3 separate regions of the Homo sapiens genome follow, and regions 2 and 3 are each linked to region 1. The links come from fine-mapping of genetic effects on plasma protein levels. A gene starts in region 1. Each other region holds a variant in brackets. All regions are shown on one strand. Distances are between the middles of the regions. Region 1 holds the start of RNASET2 (ribonuclease T2). Region 2 overlaps CEP43 (centrosomal protein 43). Region 3 overlaps RNASET2 (ribonuclease T2).

Evidence for each region. PIP is the chance, under the fine-mapping model, that this variant and not a neighbour inherited with it causes the effect. Protein levels are from antibody-based Olink assays in UK Biobank. Linkage for the fine-mapping came from a reference panel and not from the study's own genotypes, which makes the PIPs less certain.
Region 2: its variant is fine-mapped to the plasma level of the RNASET2 protein (UK Biobank, PIP above 0.99).
Region 3: its variant is fine-mapped to the plasma level of the RNASET2 protein (UK Biobank, PIP 0.98). The variant lies in the coding sequence of RNASET2. If it changes the protein, the assay may bind it differently, which can mimic a change of level.

The regions. Positions count from the first base shown.
Region 1 is chr6:166,952,576-166,960,736 of GRCh38, forward strand. RNASET2 (ribonuclease T2) reads right to left here and starts at 3,975. Exons shown (of 9, transcript NM_003730.6): 1 at 3,522-3,975. The coding sequence starts at 3,607. RefSeq lists silencers at 3,741-4,500, 4,541-4,640, 4,911-4,960, an enhancer at 5,925-6,044 and a cis regulatory region at 6,725-7,011.
Region 2 is chr6:167,027,216-167,035,396 of GRCh38, forward strand. It overlaps CEP43 (centrosomal protein 43), which reads left to right. Exons shown (of 13, transcript NM_007045.4): 11 at 5,388-5,427; 12 at 6,660-6,756. Among named protein-coding and RNA genes, the nearest start is that of CEP43, 32 kb to the left of the region's middle. The variant T/C (reference allele first, on the strand shown) is at 3,215.
Region 3 is chr6:166,922,676-166,930,841 of GRCh38, forward strand. It overlaps RNASET2 (ribonuclease T2), which reads right to left. Exons shown (of 9, transcript NM_003730.6): 9 at 1-7,116. The coding sequence ends at 6,913. Among named protein-coding and RNA genes, the nearest start is that of RPS6KA2-AS1, 23 kb to the left of the region's middle. The variant G/A (reference allele first, on the strand shown) is at 6,978.

The DNA of each region.
Region 1 (8,161 bases):
CAAGAACTTTTTTTAAAGTTACAGAAAAAATTCATCCACCCATCCATCCCTTCAATCATTCATTCAGCACTGAGTGCTGTGGGAGGAGGAACACTGCCTGCCCTGCTGCTGCACACACTCCCGTGAGGAAGGCGGTACACCCCTACACTAAGAAGGCACGTGTGGTGGCGTCCAGTGCTGAGTGGCGGAGAACATGAATAGGATAAGGGGAGGAGGGGAGAGGAGGGGAAGCGGAGGCAGGGCAAGCTAGGAGTGCAGCCAGGGAGGGCCTCACTGAAGGGAAGCCACTGAGCCACGAAGCACCTTTCTCCTAAGGATGCTCAAGAGAAATGCAGACCCACGATCCCTCCCCTGCATTCGTGAAACCCATAAAAGCCTGAAACCTGGTAGTTTTTTGTAATTCATTTGGCAACAAAACATAACCTGAACTAGCATAACGCTATTTATCGTTACTACCCCAACTCAGTTTTTAGACTTCACTTGCTTCTCTGCAGAATTTGTGTCATTTGATTTTAGGGTGCTACTTCAGATGCCACCAGGACTGTTAACTTGAACACGGTATGTGCACTGCATCATGAATGTTATTCACGACATGGTATGCACACAGCACTGCATCACACGTGTTACCCAGAACCTGGGGCCACACTGGATCACAAACCTGAACACCGTGAAACTCATCTGACTCTAAGACTTCAAAGAAGCCACTGTGGAGCGGCAGCTTATTCATGGCAGTAGGCCTCTAGCCAGAACTGCAAGACTTAACGAGACTGAAGTAAAAAGAGCAGCTTGCAAAAAATGCACATGGAAAAAGCCAGCAGCAACACAGGATATAAGTCAAGCAGACACTTCAGGATAAATCAAATTTTAGAAGGGAAGATTCCAAGTAAGAAGATCAAGTTGTCACACATTAGCTTTTGTAAATAATTGAGTCCTGTTGAATTTGTATAGAATTTACAGTTAAGATGGTATGAAAACTTAGTTGTACATTGGAACTAATTATGCAAGCTCTCAGTATAAAAGGAAAAAAGGGTTCAAGCGTGGTGGCTCACACCTATAATCCCAGCACTTTGGGAGGCAGAGGCAGGAGGATTGCTTGAGCTCAGGAGTTCAAGACCAGCCTGGGCAACATGGTGAAACCCTGTCTCTACAAAAATTAGCCAGGTGTGGTGGCATGAACCTGTAGTCCCAGCTACTTGGAAGGCGCTGAGGCAAGAGGATAGCTTAAGCCCAGGAGGTGGAAGATGCAGTGAGCCCAGATCACATCACTGCACTCCAACCTGGGCTACACAGCCAGACCCTGTCTCAAAAAAAAAAAAAAAGGATGAGCTGCAGGGTGAGAATTGGAGCTGGTAAAGCATTTTTTACCCTTGGGTGAAAAACCTTATTTTACATAGTCGGAACCTGAGGCTGGAAAGCTTAGCAACACCCAGGAAGATGAGACTATCAATATGCTTACAACAAAACTACCAAGACTCAGACGTTTGTAACAAACTCTCCATCTAAAACCAGGCAGAGTGATGTGACTGCAGGAGACCCCCTCCCACACAGATGCCCCCCTCCCCTATTCACGGAGAAAGTAATGGAGAAGCTAAAGAAAGTCAAAGAAGAAAGAAAAATCACCAAGGTCTCAAAACCAGTTAGAACTTGGGAAAATGCCCGCTGACCTATGAAGCCCTCGTGGTCTGAATCAACCATGTTCTCGCAAATCTTGCCTGCTCAAGTTTGTCCGATCATATCAGTTGCATGAATTATGGGCTGGGGTGGGGGATCCACATATGACAGCCTGTTTTATGCTAATGTTTACTTCCAGCCAGACATCATTCCAAGTTACATTCTGTACCTTAACTGATTTCTCCTGAAGCCAACTCTGTGAGGCTGACTGTTACTATTTCTACTTTACAGATGAGGAAACTGGGGCATAGAGAGCTCAAAGGTCCCACACCTGGGTGTGAACTAGCAGTTTCCACTCAGCCAGCAAGGGCCAGCATGCCACAGACTTCCCCAGTGAGAGGCTCTGAACCTCATGGCCAATAAATAAGGACATAAATGTAGCTCTTTTTCAGAAAATACACTTTCCGGAACACTGAAATATAATGCTACATTTTAATGTACATGATTAAAAATATATACCTAAGGTGTTTAAAAAGTAAAACCCTGGCCGGGTGCAGTGGCTCACGCCTGTAATCCCAGCACTTTGGGAGGCCGAGGCGGGCGGATCACCTGAGGTCAGAAGTTCGAGACCAGCCTGGCTATTAAAAATACAAAAATTAGCCAGGCGTGGTGGTGTGCATCTGTAATCCCACCTACTCAGAGGCTGAGGCAGGAGAATCGCTTGAACCCGGGAGGTGGAGGTTGCAGTGAGCTGAGGTCACGCCACTGTACTCCAGCCTGAGTGACAGAGTAAGACTGTCTAAAAAAAAATAAATAAGTAAAACCCACCTTTTCCACACCTACTATGTAAGTAAGAAATCCTATTAACCCGATCATTACCCAAATAGAAAGAAATAATATGGTATTCAAATATTGGTATCTTCCACAGAATTAAAGTTGGAGTTCTTTGCAGCACCGCCTGTTTACCCCTAATTAATTTGGGCGGCTGCCACACACACACACGCACACACGCACGCACACACGCACGCACACACGCGCACACACGCACGCACGCACACACACGCACACACGCACACACACACACGCGCACACACGACACACACGCACAGACGCGCACACACGACACACACGCACACACACGCACGCACGCACACGCACACGCACGCACACACACACGCACACACAAACGCACACGCACACACACACACGCGCACACACACACGCGCACACACACACACACGCGGAGGGCGAGCCAAGGGAAGGGATTCAGAACAGGATACTCAAAAAGAGGAAGAACCGTCGTTTCACCACCCGCCGCAGTGAAAGCTGAAATTAAGTGTCCCCTCCACGACTTCTTCGACCTCTGAGAGAACTTCGAGTGCAGGAACAGTGCTCCACCAAGCCTGCCACCTGCTTTGTCGCGTCCTAGGCTGGGAGCAGTCTGTGGGATGAGTTTCCAGTCCAGCTCCAGGCTGGAGTGTACCCAGGACCTCACCCTACCCCCTACTCCTTCCCAGGGGTCACCCCGGGGAGTGTTCAGGGCTCCCCAACCCACTTCTTCCCAGGAGTCACCCCAGAGCGTGCCCAGGGCTCCCCCCAACCCACTCCTTCCCAGAGGTCACCCCGGGGCGTGCTCAGGACTCCCCTCATCGCACTCCTTCCCAGAGGTCACTTCTGAGTGTGCTAAGGGCTCCCCCCAACCCACTCCCTCCAGGGGTCACCCCGAGGCGTGCTCAACTTCCCAACTTCTTCCCAGGGGTCACCCCGGAGCGTGCTCGGCTCCCCCCGCCCTCCCCAGTCGCTGCCCGGGGCTCAGCGACCGCCGACCCCGAGAGCTGCAGCCTTCACCCAGTGGAAAGCTCTAGGGCCCGGCTCCCACGCTCCCCACTTTACCTCGCAAGGTAACTCACCGCAGGCGCTTGTCCGCACCGCCCAGGCAAAGCAACGCCAGGCAGAGGCAGCCCAGCAGGGCCCCGCGCAGGGCTGCAGGGCGCATGGTGCCGACCTGCGGAGAGAACGCTGCCAGCTGCCGCTCCGGCTCCCACTTCCCACCTGCTGCCCGAGGAAGACTTCCGGGAGAAACGCTGTCTCCGAGCCCCCGCGCCGCCGCGCTCCCTCCGCTGCAGCAGCGGCCACCGGGTGCGCCCGGAGCCCTGGGACGGCCTAAACCAGTATCTCGCGGGCCCCGCGCCGGGCTCCGGGAATGGCCGCAGCAGCCCTGGCGACCCGGGCCCCTCGGAGCTCCCCTTCAGGATCGTGCACCAAGCGCGCACGTCCCGGGCTCTGCTTCGCGACCCACAGCGACCCCAGCTCCTCCACGCTGCAGCCGCCGTCCGCCCACGACCACGGTCAGTCGCGTTGCTCCCAGCCCAGGGCGCCCTGCGGGCCTGCACCGGAGCAGAGAGCCACGCCCCCAGGACGGCACGCCCCCGCCGGTGGACACGCCCCCCAGAACGGCACGTCCCCGCCCGGCGTTCACGCCCCGCCCCGTGGTTGGCTCAGAGAGGCCGAGGCAGGAGCAGCTCCGCGGGCCTTGAGGGCGTGTCAGGCGGCTGTGTTCCTTCGCCACGCAGGCGCCCCGCGCCTTTTCCCGCAGCTCTGCGCCACTCCCACACTCCCGGGTCCGAGCTAACCTAGACCACCCGTGAGGACCGCCCTCGGGGGGACCGCCCGTGTCTGCGCCATCCCCCGCCAGCAAGTGGGCGTGCGGGCCCCAGGGCCACTCTACTCTCCAGGGACAGCCCCCAGCCCGACCCGCGCACCCTGCAGGCCCGCGGTCCGCACGCAGCACCCGCTTTCAAAAACTGCGCCCTGCAAGCTGCCCGGGAGCTCCTGACTGCAGATGGTGCTTGGCCGCCCAGGCTCCCCGCAGCCTCCCGCCACCTCGGCGCTCCACTGCGCAGCCCGAGGGACGGCTCCAGAATTAGGAGGGGACCTACTCGGGTCACTCTCCTGGAAACCTCTCCAGTCTCCCGGTGCTAGGTGCTGGGAGCACCAACATTCCTAGAAGGGCCTGGCCCTCACCCAGCCCTGGGCCTCACCTGCCCCTCCCCGCGGGCCCCAGGAGCCCGGAAGTCATCTCTGTGGGGGCAGCAAAGAGCCGCCTCGGGGCGCGACCTGGGAAGTCATCTTGTGAGGGATCCCCTCCCAGAGGGACGGGCCACCCCCCACGGATGAAGGGGACTTCATGTCAGCCCCACCTTGGCGTAGCCAGGGCCAGTCCCATAGGCCCGGTCTCCTCCCCCAACACCCTGGCCTTCCCAGCCCTTCAGAGGCACGGGTTCCCCTGCACCCGCGGCCCCGCCCACGGGCTGTGCACCCGGCATTGTCTCTGCAGATGTTTCTCCTCTTTCCCTTCCCTGTCCGCACACCCACAGCTAGTTAAGGCTATTCCTATTTACACGTCGAGTAAACTGCGCCTTCCTCGGGGTCCTCTGCCACTGGTAACTGTCTAAATAGCAGGTGGGCCTGTAGCCTGCTCTCCCACAGGCCTGGACCTTGCCTGCATGCATTACCATTCTTTGAAACAAAATATTTAAATGATTAATCTGTTTTTCCCACTAGACTGCAAGGCAAGGCCCATGTCTATTTTGCCCACCTTGAGTCCCTGCCACTGAGCACAGTGGATGGGGGACAGTCGGTGCTCAATAAAATGCCACCTGTGGAACAGATGGGGGGGGAAAATGGCTGACACCTCCTTAGCTCCTCCAGGACCTCCTACAGGTCATGGTGTTATTCTCGTTCTCCTTTTCCCTAACGACTTATTTGTTTCTTTCCGGCTCCTTTCATTCCTTCCTCTCAAGAATATAGGCACACGCCACAGTTCTTTTTCTCTTTTCTTTTAAGCTAAAAAAATAATTTTCTTAAAACAAAAGTGCTTCCCAGAATCCTCATTTTCCTTTAAATCACAGTCCGGTGTGTTTAAACAGCCCCTTGTCAAGGAGGGCTGTTGTGACCACTGCCAAATATAAAGCAAATCTGGACTCGGGGAGGAGTGGTGTTATGAGGACCATTATTGCAGGGGCCTGGGGGCCTTTTGTCCCTACTAAAAATACAAAAATTTGCTGGGCGGGGGTGGCACGCGACTGTAATCCTGTGGCAGGAGGAGCGGCAGACAAAACCTCTCAGACACCGAGCTATAGAAGGAAGGGCTTTATTCAGCTGGGAGCATCGGCAAGCTACTGCCTTAAAATCCGAGCTCCCCGAATGCACAATTTCTGTCCCTTTTAAGGGCTCACAACATTAAAGATTTCACATGAAAGGGTCGTGATTGATTTGAGCAAGCAAGGGGTACGTGACGGGCTGCATGCACTGGTGGTCAGAGAGAAACAGAACAGGGCAGGGAGTTTCACAATGTTCTTCTATACAATGTCTGGAATCTATGAATAACATCGGTCTCTAAGTCATGAGTTGATTTTTAACTACTAGGTTTAGGCCAGGCAGGCCCAGGTCCGGTTTTGGGCCTGGCGCCGGGCTGCCTGTCTTTGATTTCACTTCCTTGTTTTTTTCTTAAAACAGGTACTGAGTATAAAACAATATAAAACAATATGAGAGGGTCTCTCTCTTCCCTCAATCCCAGCTACTCTGGAGGCTGAGGCAGGAGAATCGCTTGAACCCAGGAGGCAGAGGTTGCAGTGAGCCGAGATCGCGCCACTGCACTCCAGCCTGGGCGACAGAGTGAGACTCGGTCAACAACAACAACAAAAAGAATGAATGAAAGAAAGAAGAAAGAGAGAAAAAGAAAGAGAGAGAAAGAATGAACTGGGAATGGAGAAGTGGGATGAGAACCTGCCTTCATAGGACATTAGATCAGAGAAGGTTGACCCCGTGGCCAGCCTGTTCTCAGGGGGGACTGACTCAGGCTAAGATGAGGCCAAAAGTCCTCAGCCTCGGGGGAAGAGAGGAGCCTCACCAAGTTTGCTTAACAAGTGTGTTATTTCTATTGACTGGCTCATCATTGATGAGGTGAAGAATGGGAATTGGAGGATCTGTGTCTGGCTTTGTCCTAGGTAATGGGTAGGGGGTGGAGTGAGGGGAGCATCCGTCACTTTTCCTTTTTTTTTTTTTTTTTTTGGAGACAGCGCCCAGCTGCATCACTTCTATCACTCTTACCTATGTTATGTGGGGAAGAAGGGGGTCTCTCGCAGCAAGCCACTTTCCACAACTCACAGAGAGGAGATTTTTATCAGATAAATTCAGCAGCGTCCTACCCAGCCTGAAGAAGCCACCCAGTCATTTCCTGTTGCACTTCCTTGTTTATTTTCGACACAGTTCTCCCCACCCCTGAGAATTCTTGTCACTTCCTCCTGTACTGCCCACTTCTACTCCCCCACCCCCACATCGGAAGCTAATGAGGAGCTTCAGGCCCCTTGCTGGCATGGGCCCCACCAAGACCCCATATCTCATTCCGTATTCACAATTTTACCTTCTTGTTCTTAAAGAAGGACATCCAAATGGAAAAGCTCTCAACCCCCCAAAACTTGGATGTGAACCTGGAGCATCTGTCATCTGTCTTGTTCACTACTTGTCCACCTACCAGGATCCTAAACGGAACCCTACGTAGGGAAGAGGCAGTGGCTGTAAAGGCTGGATTTGGGTCTGGAAGCCGCCCAGCTTTACGAAAACAAAGAGGGCTCCAGCATCAAGCAGGTGGGCAGGGGCCAGAGTGGGAATTACATTGACTCACACAACATAGTGTAAAAGGGTACAAACTATGAGGTTTAAAAGATGCTGCTGGCTTGTATAGAAACATGTCCTTAGGAGAGGGGAGGGGGACAGGATGGCAACAGCCATGTCTATGAACAGACATCCTTAAATCCTTGTTAATTCTGAAGAGACCAAGATACTTTCACCACACAACCTCTTCTTGGCATTAGCTCCAGGTTTCCTGTTTCCATGCCAGCTTTTGCTGGGTTATGCTACAATAATACACCGCCCCCAAATCTCAGTGTCTCACTTAAACGGAAGTTGATCATTTATCATTCATTTGCCCATATTCCATGCTGGCTATGCGTCAGATGCCACTGTGGTCCACGGTATTTTTCACTCTGGAACCCAGGCGGTAGGAACAGCCCATATCTGGTGCTGGCCATTCCAATGGCAGAGCAGTGGCACAACTACACAGTTTAGGATTCTCATGCTCTAAAGAGCTTTGTCACACTTGAAAGAATCTCACCTTAAAAACTCCTTTCCATCCTGAATTACTTATTTGCTGAGAAAGTGAGGCCAGCTGCTGGGTGTTTCCCTGCCCTTTCTCTTCTTTTTCTTTTTCTTTTTTTTTTTTTGAGACAGAGTCTCACTCTGTCAGCCAGGCTGGAGTGCAGTCAGTGGCACAATCTCGGCTCACAGCAACCTCCGTCTCCCAGGCTCAAACAATTCTCCTGCCCTAGCCTCCCGAGTAGCTGGGATTACAGGCGTGTGCCACCACGTCCGGCTAATTTTTGTGTTTTTAGTAGAGACGGAGTTTGACCATGTTGGTCAGGGTGTCCCAGCACCTCTGGCCTTGCCATGCCAGCCTGGCCACTGTGGTACACATTTTGTGGAACTCTTT
Region 2 (8,181 bases), 75 kb after region 1:
AGTACATTCATTCCTATGGAAGTAAGAGTGTCGATGTGAACATTACCGAGCCCTGGGCCATATGTTGAGAGCACATTTCTCATTCAGTGTTCTGTTCTGTGCAAGACTGTAGCAGTGTGACAGGCATACTTTAGGCAAACTCATTTATGTAAAGGCAAACTTGGTGACCTGAAGGAAACGGTGCAGCCAGGTTCTCAATGGCCACTTCCTATGCTCTCTGTGGATGTGATGGGATCCCTTCCTGGTCTGTAATCACTCACATGGAAGCATTGGAAGAGCTTCACAGGCAGGTTAGGGAGAAAGAAAGGTGTGTCCCCATTTGCTTTTAAAACCCAGCCCTGTCCAAGGGGCAGCTCCGAGAATGCCCTTCCCTCTTCTGGAGAGACATTCTGGATAGTGCAAAGAACTTGGGCTTGGAGTTGGATAGAAGTGACATCTCAGATGTGGCACTGATTGATGGGTAGCGTAGGGAGATAAACTAAACTGCTATTTCCTCATCTGTTAAGTGGAACTAATAACATCTGCCTTGTTTTAAAGAGTAAATAGGATTTAAATATCTCTTCATATGTAAATTAAAGTACAGTGGCTGGCATGGTAGGTGCCTAGTAAATGTTAGTTTTCTTTTTACGTTACTTTTCCCCCCATTTGCAGAAGAATAAATGTTCCCTGAGCTGCCCGGATTCTTGTTCCGCACAGTGCCCTGGAGTCCTGGTAACTGAGTTGCTGGTTGTGCTGCCATCTGCTCTTTGTGCGTCCTGGTTGCTGGCTGGCCAGCTAGGTGGGCCTGCCTCCTTTCCCTCCCTTGTGCTTTTCCTGTCAGCTGTGGTCATGGTTGCCATTAGATGTTCTTTTCCACTAAATCTCAGTGGCTAACTGCCACCAGAGACTTTACTCCTGACCTCTGCACCGTGATGGCCGCCTTGTCCCCTTTGTGTTCTGTTTTTTTCACTTTTGTGGTGTTTCACTCTGTTGCCAAACCTTTTAGCTTTTTTCTCTGACTGCTCTATTCTCTTACCAAAGCGAGGGTTTTCCCTCCTGTTTCTGAGTGGGGAGCTGCCGAGAATTGTCATCCTCAGGAGGGAATGTCGTTGCTGGGGCTGCAGAGTTGCTGGGTACAGGCAGGAGGGTGGTGTGCTCCTTCACTTCACTTTGTCTTGGGACTTAGGCATATCTCGGGTTGGAATTGGGGTAGTTATGCAGGTGAGAACTACCAGTTCACTAGCTGGATGTTTGTCATTTAGCTAGGCATTAGGATTCAGTAGAAATAAAGTTTTATTTCGTTTTGCAACAATGTTGTTTTCTGTTTGGGTTGTTTACATTTTAAATATACAGTACTCTAGGTATTTTGAGTAATATGTAGACAGATGTTAGTGGACCAGCCTAGGAGAATAATGATGTTAGTGGTAAGTGCCTGGCACTGTACCAAGGAATTATTTTATTTAATTCATATCCTATGAGGTAGGTTTTATTACTATCTCCATTTTTACAGATGAAGAATCTAGGTTAAGTAACTTGCCCAAGGTCATGCTGCTTTTAGAGTCCTGATGCATCACACAGAGCCCTCACCACTGTGTTTTACTGCCTGTATGTTATTTAGACATATTGAAATAATCATTTCAATGGGAACATAAATTCTGAGTTCCAAATAAATAATCTACAAATAAAGCTTTAGAGCACCATCTATTTTAGTTTGGCAGACAAATATTAATTAAAGGTGCCCAAAAGGAGTGTTTATAGATAGGTACTTTGCATATTTAAAGCAAGAGTTGCTAAGCTTTTTCCGTAAAGGGCCAAATAGTCTATATTTTAGGGTTTGTGGATGGCATGTACTGTCTCTCACATAGTCTTTGTGTGTTTTTTTGTTTTTTTGTTTTTTAACAATCTTTAAAAATGTAAAAGCCATTCTTAGTTCACAGGCTGAACAAAAGCAGGTCATCAGCCAGAGGCAAGAATGAAAGTAAGGAAAGCAGAAGGCTGTCAGGAAGTCCGGGCCAAAGATGACTGGGGTAAGGGCAGATAAGACAGAGGGTATGGGATGGGGAGGAGAGACTGTCAAAAAATGAAGAAAACAAGAATCCTTGGCCTGAGGGCCAAAATTTGCTGACCCTTAAAGTAATGTAGTACAGGTTGAGTATCCCTTAATGCAAATGCTTGGGACCAGAAGTATTTCAGAGTCTGGATTTTTTTGGATTTTGAAATGTTTGCATTTTTCTTACCAGATGAGCATCCCAAATCTGAAAATCTGAAAGTCCGAAATGCTCCAATGAGCAGTTTCTCTGAGCATTACGTCCCCACTCAGAAAGTTCTGGATTTTATTCAAGTTTGGTTTTCAAATTTTTGAATTTGGGATGCTTAACCTGTATGTATTCTGTTAATCATTTTGACACTGGCTTAAATTATTGTAATACTAAACAATACATAACCAAGAAGTCAGAATCTGATGTGTTATAGCACATTATTCAGTAAATATCTTTGTCTCATGTGTCTGTCTGAAGAGACCACCAAACAGTCTTTGTGTGAGCAACATGGCTGTTTATTTCACCTGGGTGCAGGCAGGCTGAGTCCGAAAAGAGAGTCAGCAAAGGGTTGTGGATTATCATTAGTTCTTACAGGTTTTGGGATAGGTGGTGGAGTTAAGAGCAATGTTTTGAGGGAAGGGGTTGGATCTTACAAAGTACATTCTCAAGGGTGGGGAGAACTACAAAGAACCTTCTTAAGCATGGGGGAGATTATAAAGAACCTTCTTAAGGGTGGGGGAGATTACAAAGTACATTGATCAGTTAGGGTAGGGCAGAAACAAATCACAATGGTGGAATGTCATCAGTTAAGGCTATTTTCACTTCTTTTGTGGATCTTCAATTGCTTCAGGCCATCTGGATGTACACGTGCAGGACACTGGGGATATGATGGCTTAGCTTGGGCTCAGAGGCCTGACAATCTTGTGTTTTGAATTGGCTACAAATGCTGCCAGGTGGGGAATCCAGTTAGCTTTCTTTAAATCCACATTGCAGCCACAGCCGTCCTCGCTGTCTCAGCTCAGTGTCCACCTCTGCTCTCCTCACTGGCCTTCACACATAGGAACACTACAATGGGTCCTTGGAGGCTGACATTTTAGTAGCTGCCACTCCTGGTTTTACTTAGCGCTTGCAAACCAGCCACATATGTAGTTTGTTTAATCAGATTTCCACTTCTCCTTCTCGGCCCTGACAGTGCC[T/C]GGTTTCTGGCAAGCACTTGCAGCCCTTTAACCTTTGAGGCTACAGTGGAGACGAGCTCTTGATTCTCAAGAGGAGAGGAAGCTCCTGACATGTCCCTCCTGACTGCTTATGATCAGGGATTTCCAGTTCATTACTGGGCAAGGTTTGGATGTAGCAGGAACAAGGACTCATGTTTTCTTCGTTTGCTGATATTCTTCCCACCCCATATCATCTACCCGTCTGTCTTATCTGTGGGACACCTGCCTTGACCCAAGCCTTTTACCCCTGTTCTCTTTGGCCTGGACTTTCTGACAGCCTTCTGCTTTCCTTACTTTCATTGTTGCCTCCTGTACACATATTTCTTCTGGCGGTGGTACGATTATCTCTGGGAAAACAGAAGTGAGGTAGTGCTACCCTGCACTTTTTCACTCCTGTCTTCCCCCACCCCACCCCATCCCTTTGTACAAAGCTTCCCTTTGTATTCAGGCTAAGATCCTTATTGCAACCAACCAAGCCCTAATGATCCGGCTTCTGCCAACCCTTCTGATCGCCACTCCTTTTTTCTTCCTCCACCCATTCTGTCCCCCAAATTCATTGTTTTATGGTTGTATGGCTTCCTTACTGGTGGTTTTTACATTTTTTTTGAGACAGTATTTTAAAAATTAAAATTTAAAAAATAAAATAAATTTTTAATTTTTGAGGGGGTCTTGCAATGTTGCCCAGGCTGGTCTCAAACTCCTGGGTGCAAGTGATCCTCCTGCCTTGGCCTCCCAAGTAGCTGGATTACAGATGTGCGTCACTGCTCTGGGCTGCACTGGTGGTTTTTCAAACCACCGCACCCTCCCCCACCTCAGGGCCTTTCACATGTTTCCTCTTGGAACACACTGTCCCCAGTAATTTGTACCTCTGCAACCTAGGTTTCCACTCAGTTGCTACCTTGGAGTTCTTCCCAATTGCACTAGCAGTATTTGGTTTGTTCCACTGTTCCTCTTCACTAGAGTGTTTGCTCCCTGAGATCAGAGATACCATCTTAGTCATTGCTATACCTCTAGGGGACCTAGTCATCACTCAGCTGGTTGATAAATTAATCATATGATTTGGCTGTAAGAGAATTACATTGTCTAACTGTCTGGACAGAGCTTGAATCCCCTCAGCAGTCTGACCGATTTAGAGACAGTCCAGCCTTATCTGAGGGAAGATCGAGGACAAGGCCCGCAGGGTCTTTGAACGGCTCTCTGTCATGCCAGGTCTTCTTTTTGTGATCTGCATCTTCTGCATGTGGCTGTACATGCTTCCTGGGTCTTTCATAGGCCATCCATTCACATTTTAAGTTGGCTCTCATGTGCCTCCAAGTCTGCTTTGAGGCTGACAACTCTTTTTCCTCATCTAGCCCTCAGAAGTCCTGGGAGGGAAGGGCTGCTGATTTGCAAATTTGTCCTTTATAGCCTTAAGTTGATCTGAAGGTGCCCCCTCTGTCAGAGGCTTGTGGTGCACTTTGAGAAACTGGTAACACTGCCTCACTATTCACCATCCCACCTTCATTCAGTTGCCTTTTATTAAGATCTTACTGTGGACCAAGGTCTCTGTTAAGCACATCATGTACCTGAATCCTTATGTTAACTCTGATTGGTGTGGCTTTGGCTGTACGTCAGAGCAGAGGACATGGCCCAGAAAGGGCACCTCACATTCCCAGGTCACAGAGCTGTTGAGTGGCAGGTCTGAGGCCTGAGCCTGGCTCTGTCTGACTGAAGGTGCCCTTATTTGCTGTGCTTCATGGCCTCTTCACACCTCATGAGTGTTTTTTAACTTTTATAACAAAACAATTAGCATGTTGAAAACGCTCAGTAGTTCATCTAGTACCTAGAGGGGATTGATGATGACTTGCTATTGCTATACGCCATTAAGTCAAGGGACCTTATTAATGGTGAGTGTGCCCCATGTTAATTGCCTTAGAGTACCCGGAGTAAAGATGAGGTGTTAACCACATTTTATAGTCACTTGTAACAGTTTATTATTTCTTAGGTATTTCATTTGTCATTTGTCTTCATATTATATATGCTTAAAATGTTATTTCTAGTCTGGGACTTTTTAAATGATGCAATATAATTAATTTTTTTTAAGGAAATGTGTGTTTAATGGTAGGTAAATTGTGACGCACATTAGATATAACATATCTTTTCTTAAACTTATCAGGAACTGGAGAAGATGATGACTATGTTGATGATTTTAATAGGTAAGAAAAACTATTGGGCAAATATATAAATATATACGTTATTTGTAAACAATTTCCGAACACAGACAAGACAAAATTACATTTGGTGCTTATTTTAATGTATTTGATTCTGTTGTTCATATTGATTGAAGATGAAGAAAAGATAGTTAATCCAAAATTAAATATTTGATTTTAGAGCATGTTTTTGATTTTACATTAGAATATAGACAGTCACATTATGTTCAGGAAACTTGGTAAGAAGAAGAGAAACAATTGAAGAATTAACTGAGAAGTCATTTAGAAGCAGTTCAGTTGCCGTGTCATAAGTGCTGATTTTCTCTTCCTTCCATACCTTTTTGTGGCGGGAATTGTCTCAAAATTGACCTAAAATAATTATGCTCTCAAATTAGTTTTTTGATTCAGATCACATTTCCTAATATGTGGATATGTGGTCTGCCCTAATAAGATTGCCATTCTCTTTTTTTTTTTTTTTTTTTTTTTTTTTTTGAGACAGAGTCTCACTCTGTTGCCCACGCTGGAGTGCAGTGGTGCGATCTGGGCTCACTGCAACCTCCTTCTCCCGGGTTCAAGCCATTCTCCTGCCTCAGCTTCCCATGTAGCTGGGATTATAGGTGCGTGCCACTACGCCTGGCTAATTTTTGTATTTTTGGTAGAGACAGGGTTTTGTCGTGTTGGCCAGGCTGGTCTCGAACTCCTGACCTCGTGATCCACCCACCTGGGCCTCCCAAAGTGCTGGGATTACAGACGAGAACCACCATGCCCTGTCGATTCCTTTCTTATACACAGAAAGATAATATGTAATGTAGAAGTAATATTTGTTGTGGATATGATTCGAAATTTTAAATTAGATGCCTGAGAATTTTATTTAATTGACAGGTTATCTTTCCAATTGGAAGTCTGTATTTTTTTTTATAATTTATTATACAGTTTTTGAGAAAGAGCATGATGTAGTAGATGAAATTGTAAAAATCTGGGTTTGTTTCTTTCTTGCTATTGTGACCAAAGTCACTGCTTTGAACCTTTGTCTCCTCATCTGTTACATTGACTTGACTGCTGCTGCCCTTGCTACATTATTTTAAGGGTCAAGCAAGACAATATGTATGAAATTAATTATAGTTAATATTATATTTTACTTAAAGGATTAAAAGAAATATCTGAATGTTTAAAGAATAGTAATCTCTTTAAATGTTTATTTTCAGAGTTCTTATTTTTTTTTCCCCTTCTGAAATTAGTACCAGCCATCGCTCAGAGAAAAGTGAGATAAGTATTGGTGAAGAGATAGAAGAAGACCTTTCTGTGGAAATAGATGACATCAATACCAGTGATAAGGTATGGTGTTCTGCATTTCCCATAGAGTGCTTTTTTTTTTTAACCTATTTGTCGATTTACTGTAAAGCTTCAAAATTCATACTAATTAGTAGAAAAACAGTTGAAAATTATGAAAAGTCATGACAGAGACCTGGCTCGAGTTTATAAAGAATGTCTTTGATGAATGTGTAAGATTGGTTTTGGTTGTCACTTCCTTTGGTATGCAAGTCTCGCTGCTGAAATGCCTGAGGATTATTCCTGGGGCACTGGGATTGCTGTGGATTAAGAGGGATCAGGGTGGGTCAGGCTTAGTGAGAATTGACCACCTGGTGCCATAGGTGGAAGTCAGTATAGGGTACTGTGATCACAGGAGGAAGCTGAGCCTGGAGTGCAGAGAGTGTGGTCATCTTGGCCAGTTGTGACATCTGAACAGGCAAGCCAGACTGGGCTAAAATCCACAGGAGACAAGACAGTAGGCCATAAAGTTAGAGTCCGTATTTGAGATCCAAACTTTACCTTTTTATGTGGGTGGAGAACAGAAGATCCTTCGATGGTGAGCTGTAGCATTGCAGGGTCACCTGTCAGTACCCACTTCAAGCTGTCCCCAGCTCAGAGGAGTCTACCAGTCAGGTTGGAGGTTGCCATGGCTGGGTGGGGACTTGCTTTCCAGAACATGGTGGGATTCTCCAAGCGCTGTGATTGTCACACAGGGAGAAGGCCTTTGAGAGAGGTAGCGTTTACAATGCAACCACACAATCTAAGTCAGCAGCATCCGTGTTTGCATTCTTATTCTTTCATATATTTTCTTATTTAAGCTTTAACCTTTGACTCTCAGTTTCTTTACTTGTAAGATGGAAGTATTAATACCTATGTGATAGGATTATTTTGAAGGTTAAATGATAATATATAAAGCACTTCTCTAATTCCTGATGTATTATATACCCTTATAATTATAAATTTAGCTTTCTCTTTTCACCCTGCATCATCCTAAAGAGGCCTGAAGAATGTTGCTTTAAAGTTATACCAAAGAAACTATGAAGGATTCTTTAAATATGAGGGAGAGGACTCGAAGAAATGACTGTTAAACTAGGATTTGTGAAATGACGTGGGTTGAAGAGGAGGTGTGGCATCCCTTTGCCATTGGGGGCCTTGGATGGCGTCCAGGAGTCTGGGCTTTGTTAGACTGCTTCTCACTGGGTCCTACTCACTGGGTTTGGCACATCAATGTTCCTAGGAGTTTTCACTTAAAAGCTTAAATTTAGATAATTTTGCCATTTACATAGATTGGACTTTGACAGTCACTGTACTTCATCAGGAAGCATTTTCTAAAGCCTTCTGTGTAGAGAATTGCTACTGGGCACCTGGGGAACACAAAAGCATTTGTATTCTTTGCAGTAAGAATACAGCAGACAATCTGGTCACCTTTCAGCCAAGGTGACCAAAACC
Region 3 (8,166 bases), 30 kb before region 1:
TGTATGTTGTTATCTTTGGGCCACTGCTGACTATCTTTTCTCAATTCAGGTTAAATATTTTCAAAACACCTACTATGCTCAAGTAGCTGTGTTCAGTACTGGGGCAGCACGAGCAGCCCACATCTCAGGGTGCAGTCCAAGACATATGGTCATCAAGACAGAAGAGCAGATGGTGACAGGTACCAACCACCAAAGCTGTACACGCCAGGTTCAATGTCTTTGCTGGTAAAAATGGGCCACTGTCACTCTGCAGACTTTTCTCAGTGTTAAAAGCGGGTAGGAAAAGGTGATTGTGTAATTCTTGCTCCCTCAAATAAAGGGAATGTAAATGCATAAGAATGCACAGGTCTGAAATGTGAAAAGCACGTCAGCATAAAGTCCATACAGCATTTAATGGATCTTAACTTTATCCATCTCAAACTTTCTTTTGGAGATGGAGTCTCACTCTGTTGCCCAGGCTGGAGGGTGGAGCGCAGTGGCGCAATCTCCACTCACTGCAACCTCCAGCCTCCCAGAGGGCTGGGATTACAGGCGTGAGCCACCAGGCCCGGCCTTTTTTTTTTTTTTTTTTTTTGAGACAGAGTCTTACTCTGTTGCCCAAGCTTGAGTACAGTCTCGGCTCACTGCAGCCTCCACCTCCTGGGTTCAAGCCATCCTCTCACCTCAGCCTCCTGAGTAGCTGGGATTGCAGACACCCGCCACCACACCCAGCTAATGTATTTTTAGTAGAGATAGGGTTTCGTCCTGTTGGCCAGGGTGGTCTTGAACGCTTGACCTCAAGTGATCCGCCCACCTCGGCCTCCCAAGGTGCTAGGATTACAGGTATAAGCCACTGCGCCTGGCCCATCTCAAACTTTCTAATAACTATCATCTGAGCCTAAAATGCTAATTCTGTCTTTTTTGTCTAAAATAAATGGAAGGCCCATTACAGTCACTCAGAAAAAAAAAATAGAATTCTTATCAGAAAAAAAATGACATAAAACTGCATTTCTCATCATCTGTCAGAGATTTTGCTTCAGATAAGAAAACCCTCACTACTGCCCCTTCTATGGGAAACGTAGCTCATCCCATAAGCAATGCAATGGACTTCTTTTCTATAGACGCCCAAATACTGACTTCATATCTGTGATTGTATCCTGGTAATTTCATTTCAGGAGCTAGAGCTTGTGAGGAAAAGTAGTATTTTAACTTCTGAGTCTTTTCCAGCCTTCTGCAGTGATAGATCTAGCCAATATAGTTGAATTCTGAAAATATTTTACATTACAATTCTCAGCTGCCTTAGGACCTGCATTAAATTATTTTTATTCCTGATCCAAAGTTCGCAGAAACAAAAAGTGAAAACAGGCGATCTGCATGTTTCCTCATCTGGGCGTGGTGAGAAGCCAACAGCAGGCACCTTCCACTGGGACCAGTGCTGCATTCTCTTTTTTTCTTTTTTTGAAACGGAGTCTTGCTCTGTCATCCAGACTGGAGTGCAATGGTGTGATTTCGGCTCACTGCAACCTCTGCCTCCTGGCTTCAAGTGATTCATTCTCCTGCCTCAGCCTCCCGAGTAGCTGGGACTACAGGTGCCCGCCACCATGCCCGGCCAATTTTTGTATTTTTAGTAGAGATGGAGTTTCACCATACTGTCCAGGCTGGTCTCGAACTCCTGACCTTGGGATCCGCCTGCCTTGGCCTCCCAAAGTGCTGGTATTACAGGCATGAGCCACCACGCCCGGCCTCTCTTTTCTATTTTATTCATTTATTCACTCCATCACTAGAGAACACTGGCTTAGAGCTGATGTGCCTCAGACACAGGTGCACTCATGGAGCACAGAAGCGAGTTGGACAAAGTCCGGGCCTTTGTAGTGTGACGTGGCCATTAGGGCCCACAGATCCTTCCCTGCAGTTGCTGTCTCCCTTTCTTCAGGTTCCGAGGAAGCCTTCCCTGGCCGCCTTCATAACTCTGACCTCCTCCCTCCCTCCAACCTACCAGCATCAAATGCACCAGCTATGCTCCTCTTTTCCCTTGCCGTCTGTTGCCCTGCACTTTGGGAGGCTGAGGCAGGTGGATCACCCGAGGTCGGGAGTTTGAGACCAGCGTGACCAACATGGAGAAAACCCATCTCTACTAAAAATACAAAATTAGCCGGGCATGGTGGCATATGCCACCACTCTTGGAGTGGGCCCAAGAGGAAAAGATCCCTGCTTATGGCCATGTCCCAGTGCCTAGAAGAGAGGCGGCTCATAGGAAGGGTTGAAAAAAGTGTGGAATGAATCAATAAACAGCTCTTGATTTAGTGGCAGGAGAAGTACAGGCCTCACCTCCACCGCGCAGGCCTCATCTACGCCATCCAGCCCTCACCCACAGTGTCCAGACCTCACTTCTCCCACCCAGGCCTCTACCCAGTCATCTAGGCATTCTCCCTGCCGTCTAGCCCAAAACCGGAACAGCACAGCCCTCACCTCTGCTGCCCAGGCCTCATCTACGCCATCCAGCCCTCACTCCTGCCGCCCAGCCCTCACTCCTGCCGCCCAGCCCTCACCTCTGCTGTCCAGGCATCACCCTTGCTGTCCAGCCGACACCTACGATGCGCAGTCCATGTCTCCGCTGCCCAGGCCTCATCTATGCCACTTAGCCCTCACCCATGCCATCTAGCCCTCACTCAAGCCACCCAGCTCTCACTTCCTCCATCCAGGCATCATTCCTGCCACCCAGGCCTCATCTACACTGCCTAGCCCTCACCTCCCCTGTCCAGCCCGTCCTCACCTACACTGCACAGCCCTCACCTCTGCCACCCAGGCCTCATCTATACTGCCCAGCCCTCACCTCCCCTGTCCAGCCCTCACCTCCCCGGTCCAGCCCTTGCCTCCCCCGTCCAGCCCTCACCTCCATCATGCAGCCACTGTCTCTGCTGTCCAGTCCTCACCTATGCCACATTGTCCGCATCTACACTGTACGGCCCTCCCCTGTGCCATCCAGCTGGCATCTTCTATGTAACACAACAAGAGCTGGAAGAGAAGAGGCCCTGGTCCCTGGGCGTGGAGGCGCAGAGCCACCCAGGACTGCAAAAGAACTCTTAACGGCCAACCATGGAACTGGGTGTTGATATCCCATGGAACTTGCTAAACTAGGTGAGCAGAAGAGCACTCCAGGCCACCCAAACTGCGCGGAGAATCCAGGCACAAGGAAGTGCTAAGCAGAGCCCTCATGGGCTGTGGGGAGTGGGTGGAGGCACTGCCAACAGGGCAGGAGGGATTGAGGGAATGTCCCTGAGCCGCCATACTGGGGAGGTGTGATCTGGGAGCAGAGAGCCATGGTTGGTTACGGAGAGTGGCACAAACACGGTGCCAGCGTCCAGCACTGACAGTCAGGTGGCGTGGCAGTCAATGCATGGCCCAGATGGGAGACTGAGGCTTGAACTAAGTCAGTAATGAGAAGGATAAGCTGAATATAATTCAGAATACTTTCACAATTTAGGCAAAATTTTTTTAAAAAGTTTCCAGTTCACTTTGAGGTTTCTACCTGGAATAAGCGGATGGTGATGTCATTCACCGAGATGGAGGCAAAAGTTTCGGTGGAAAGATAAGATACCTGGGCCAGGCGCGGTGGCTCACACCTATAATCCTAGCACTCTGGGAGGCTGAGGCAGGCAGATCACCTGAGGTCAGGAGTTCCAGACCAGCCTGGCCAACACAGTGAAACCCCAACTCTACTAAAAATACAAAAAATAGCCGGGCATGGTGGCGTGCCTAGTCCCAGCTACTCGGGAGGCTGAGGCAGAAGAATTGCTTGAACCCAGGAGACAGAGGTTGCAGTGAGCCGAGATCGCACCACTGCACTCCAGCCTGGGCGACAGAGTGAGACTCAGTCTCAAAAAAAAAAAAAAAGAAAAGAAAAGAAAAGATATCTAGTTCTGAATATGATACAATTGCTACTGTTAGTTATTCAAGCGCATAATGATCTCCCACTACTAGCTTGGAGAGAGGGATTGCTTTCCAGGTGACAAAGCATTGTCCCCTCCCAGGCCAAGAGAAATGCTCTTGGGTACAGCAATAGCCCTGCTGAGAAGGGGCTGGTCTGAAGGAGTTTCATGGGAACCTGGTTTTCTTGTCTCGCTTTTACCTATGGTGTCTTTTTCCACCATAAGTTCCACTCATCCCTGTGGCCTAGTCCACGGGTCCTCTTTTCCATGGTGCCGCAGAGATGCTCCAGGCAGACGCCTGCTCTGGCTGAGACCCGGGCCAGCTGCCCCTCCTGGCTGCTCTCCATCCTGAGATGCGCCTGCTCCTTTGTCCCCCTGGGAGACACTTGTACCCCCAGCTCTGATCCCAGAGCCTGGCCTGCTCCTCCTTCCACACATACGAGCCTGAGACCCCGCTCACATGGGAGGCATTTCTCAGTCACCTCCGCCCAGTTACAGCGAGAACCGTGTGGTCAGAGTTGCATCTTCCTGAGTTGAATCTGGAAAATGCACGACCTACTTGTTTAATGATGTAAAAACATGTGCTTGGATCTGATCTCCATCACTGAACCTTAAACGCAGAGTCTTCCCCTTCTGTCTCCTGCGGCTCATAAGTGCCTTATACTTACATGATCTGAGGCAGGTTATCAAACGCTCATGTTCTACCTGCTCCTGAGCTCTAGGCCAAAATAGGAATATTAAGAGAGCCAAGCATTTGCTTGTGCTCATGTTTTGAACCATCCAGCCCCTCACCAGTGCCTTCTTCCATTTAGCTGACGTGACAATGGCAGGAAACCAGCACTCCGCAGCCCATGCCTCCCACCAGGATGCTACCTTGTTGGCGTCCCCATCCGCTCTCAAATGCTCACACTCATATAATAAATACACGCTACTTAAAAAAAAGAATGGCTTCTTTAAAAACCGCAAAGGCCAGCCGACTGCAGACAGCCTCTGAAGAGCTGCTTTCCTTGACCCCCCAAGGCTATAAAATAAATGCAATTTGAATAGGAAGTCTGTTCAAATTCACCAGCTCCTCTGGGAATAATGAAGATAAAACCCAAGCCTTGATCCCTGTGTTCGCAAAATGACTCAAAAAAAAAAAAAAAAAAAAAAAGAATTGACATCATTTAAAGGACTCTGAGGCTTAAGAGTCCAACTCTAAAGTACACCCACTCCCTGAGGACGCAGAGCAAATGCAGGAAATCACGCCCTTCCAGGTGCAAAACAAATCAGATCTTGTCCCTCTCACAGGCATCAAAACACAAATCATCAGTTCCCGACAGAAACAAATCCTGCCCTGCCAAGCCAACAGAAAAACACTGGAGACAGAAATGAGCTCAGAGAAGGGCCGAGGGACAATGACAAGGTGGGGACCCTGGACCCTTGGGCTCCGCTAGCCTTCCCCACAGCTTGCAGAAGAGGGCTCAGCTCCTCCATTACAGAAGAGACAAAATACAGGGACTGCTTCCATCAAATCCCCCATCATCTCACTCTGTCTGTCTGCAGAAGCTGTCAGGCCTGGCTGGGTGCTGCCTGTCTCAGGCTCTTACTGCAGAGCTTGTTTCCAGAGGGCCAGAGGCCGTCCTGTGTCTCCTTTAATGCCTGCGGGGGACGCAGAGGCCACTGAGTCTAGGATCAGGACTGCGACACCTACTTTCTCACCGTCCCATCTGCCTGGTAAACCTTTGTCTCTCTCTGAACATTCTGCATTTCAGACTGTCTTGTAGACACCATGAAGTGAGGTTTTGGTTTGAGCCAATTTGAAAATCTCTTCTTTAAATGGGCGAGTAAAGCCGAATATTCACAGGCATTGATACAGCTGTTTTTTTTTTTTTTGTAAATTATGCTGACAATATGGTTATTCTAAGGATTAAATATTTCACGTGTTGAACACAATGCCTGGCACATAGTAAGTTCTATTTTAAATGTATATTGAATAAAACATAAATAGGACGTTAATGTGATTAAGACAAACAGAGAAAAGGATTTAAAGAGAGAAGAGGCCAGGAGACGCGGGAGAAGACAATGCTAACAGGTTGTCTTAACAACACATGGAAAGCTCCTCACTGCACAGCCCCCAGATGCCTCACTCCACGAGTGAAATCCCTGCACGGCAGGCCGAGAGCGTGGGTGCAGCAGTCTGCCTGACGTGAGAGCCATGTCATCACATATCTAGAAGGTAAGGGTACCTCCGGTTCTGGAACACACAATGTAGGCACATTTCGCTGGGGGCTCCATGTACATTTCTAAATAGATACCAGTGCAGGGACCTGGCTACCCTCTGATAAGAAGGAAGTGAGGCCTGACAGAAACTGACCTTCCAGTAACCTGGAAGAGACTGCTCTGACGGAGACAGGAGATGGCTGCTCTGTGAATACACCCAAATCTCCTAGGGCAGGAGGGGCAAAGTCACCGTTCTAGGACACACCTGTGACCACACCAGGCCTCCAACAACGGAGCAGCTGGCTAAGGAACGATGTCCTGGGGCTCTGGTCACATGGAACAGACCCAGTCTGAGCTAGAGACACCCCCCAGGCCCACCAGGCATCAGCGTGGGCTCCTGCCATGCGTGGAGCTCTTCGTCTTGACAGGGTCCCTGCGCCAAGAAGGCAACAGGCTCCGAGGGGAAAACTCGAGCAAGAGAGTCCCCTGAATCGGTGCCATCTGTCTAAATTCCAAGTATGCCTGCCTGATCTACCAGGGCACTGAAGAGTTTAATAGAGAAAAAAAAAAACAATCTGTGAGCTTTATCCCAAGCACAAAACAGCCACTCAGGCGTGGGAGAGCTCCTTTCTCCCCGTGTACGCCACATGCACTCACTCTACAGGGACCACAACATCCAATTCACAGGCATGGAGGGGAAACAGCAAAATAAACAGACTTCACTTTGGAGTTGTTTTTTAGAAAGCTGCAGTTTGTGAATTTCTCTTGCTTTTTAAAACAGAATATTTCCAAAACTTGGGCATCAATGCTTGGTCTTTTTAGGTGGGGGATAGAAGACTGGGCCATCTTCACAGACTCTCAGACCCC[G/A]GCTCTCGGCGGCCCCATTTGCCAGCCAGACTTCCTGCTTGGGGGACGGCTGCTCCCCCGGCTCGGTGCAGTTTTGCAGCTGCTGGTCTTGCTTAGTGAGGCACAGTTCTATCTGACCAATTGTCTGTACTTCCTCATCCTAAAAGTAAACAATGAAAGACGCTTTAGAATTCAGATCTTGGATTATCATCAAGGTCTTAAGATCATGAACTTTTAGAACTTTTAGAAGATAACAAAAGCAGAGGCTCCACACCACAGGTTCTAGGTTCCAAGAACGGACCCCTTCATTGAGCAGAAGGCTGCTGTGCACTAAATTGGAAGGAGTGGCCCCAGGTGACTCGCCTGTGGGCAGTGGAGCTGGGCTTGGGGGTTGGATCCCCTGGTCACCACCAGAGGCCAGCCTGGTGCCCTGGTGAAAAGCCTCTGCTTTTATGTTAGAGAAAATTAACAAAGTTACACACAGATACAACAGCACTCAACATATCTATCAAGATATTAGGAGAAGAAATGGCTTTTGTAGGCCAAAAGGGCAACAGTACCCTATTGCTAAAAGAACAGGTATATTCTTGTTAAAGATAAGCAAGAAGACAAACCCTGTCCTAGCATGCTGTCAAGAAACCATGCTTGCTCACACACAGCACATGCTCACACAGACACACATGCATGCTCACATACACAGATGTGCAGGCCTGTGCACACATGCAGAACATGCCCATATGTGCACACATACACACAGTACATGAACATGTTCATATGCACATTCACACAGAGGCACAGGCCCATGCACACACACAGCACATACCCACATGCATGTACACACACACACACACGCACATGCCCACACAGCACGTTCACATGCATGCACACATTCACACATGCACACACATGCCCACATGCATGTTCACACAGAGAACATGCACACACATGCACACACACAGCACATGCACACATGCATGTACATGCACACACAGCACATGCCCACATAATGTACACACTTGCACACACAGCACATGCGCACATGTATACTCATGCGCATACAGCACATGCACACATGCATGTACATGCACACACAGCACATGCCCACATAATGTACACACATGCACACACAGGACATGCACACACATGCACACATAGCACATGCCCACATGCATGTACACACACATGCACACATAGCACATGCCCACATGCA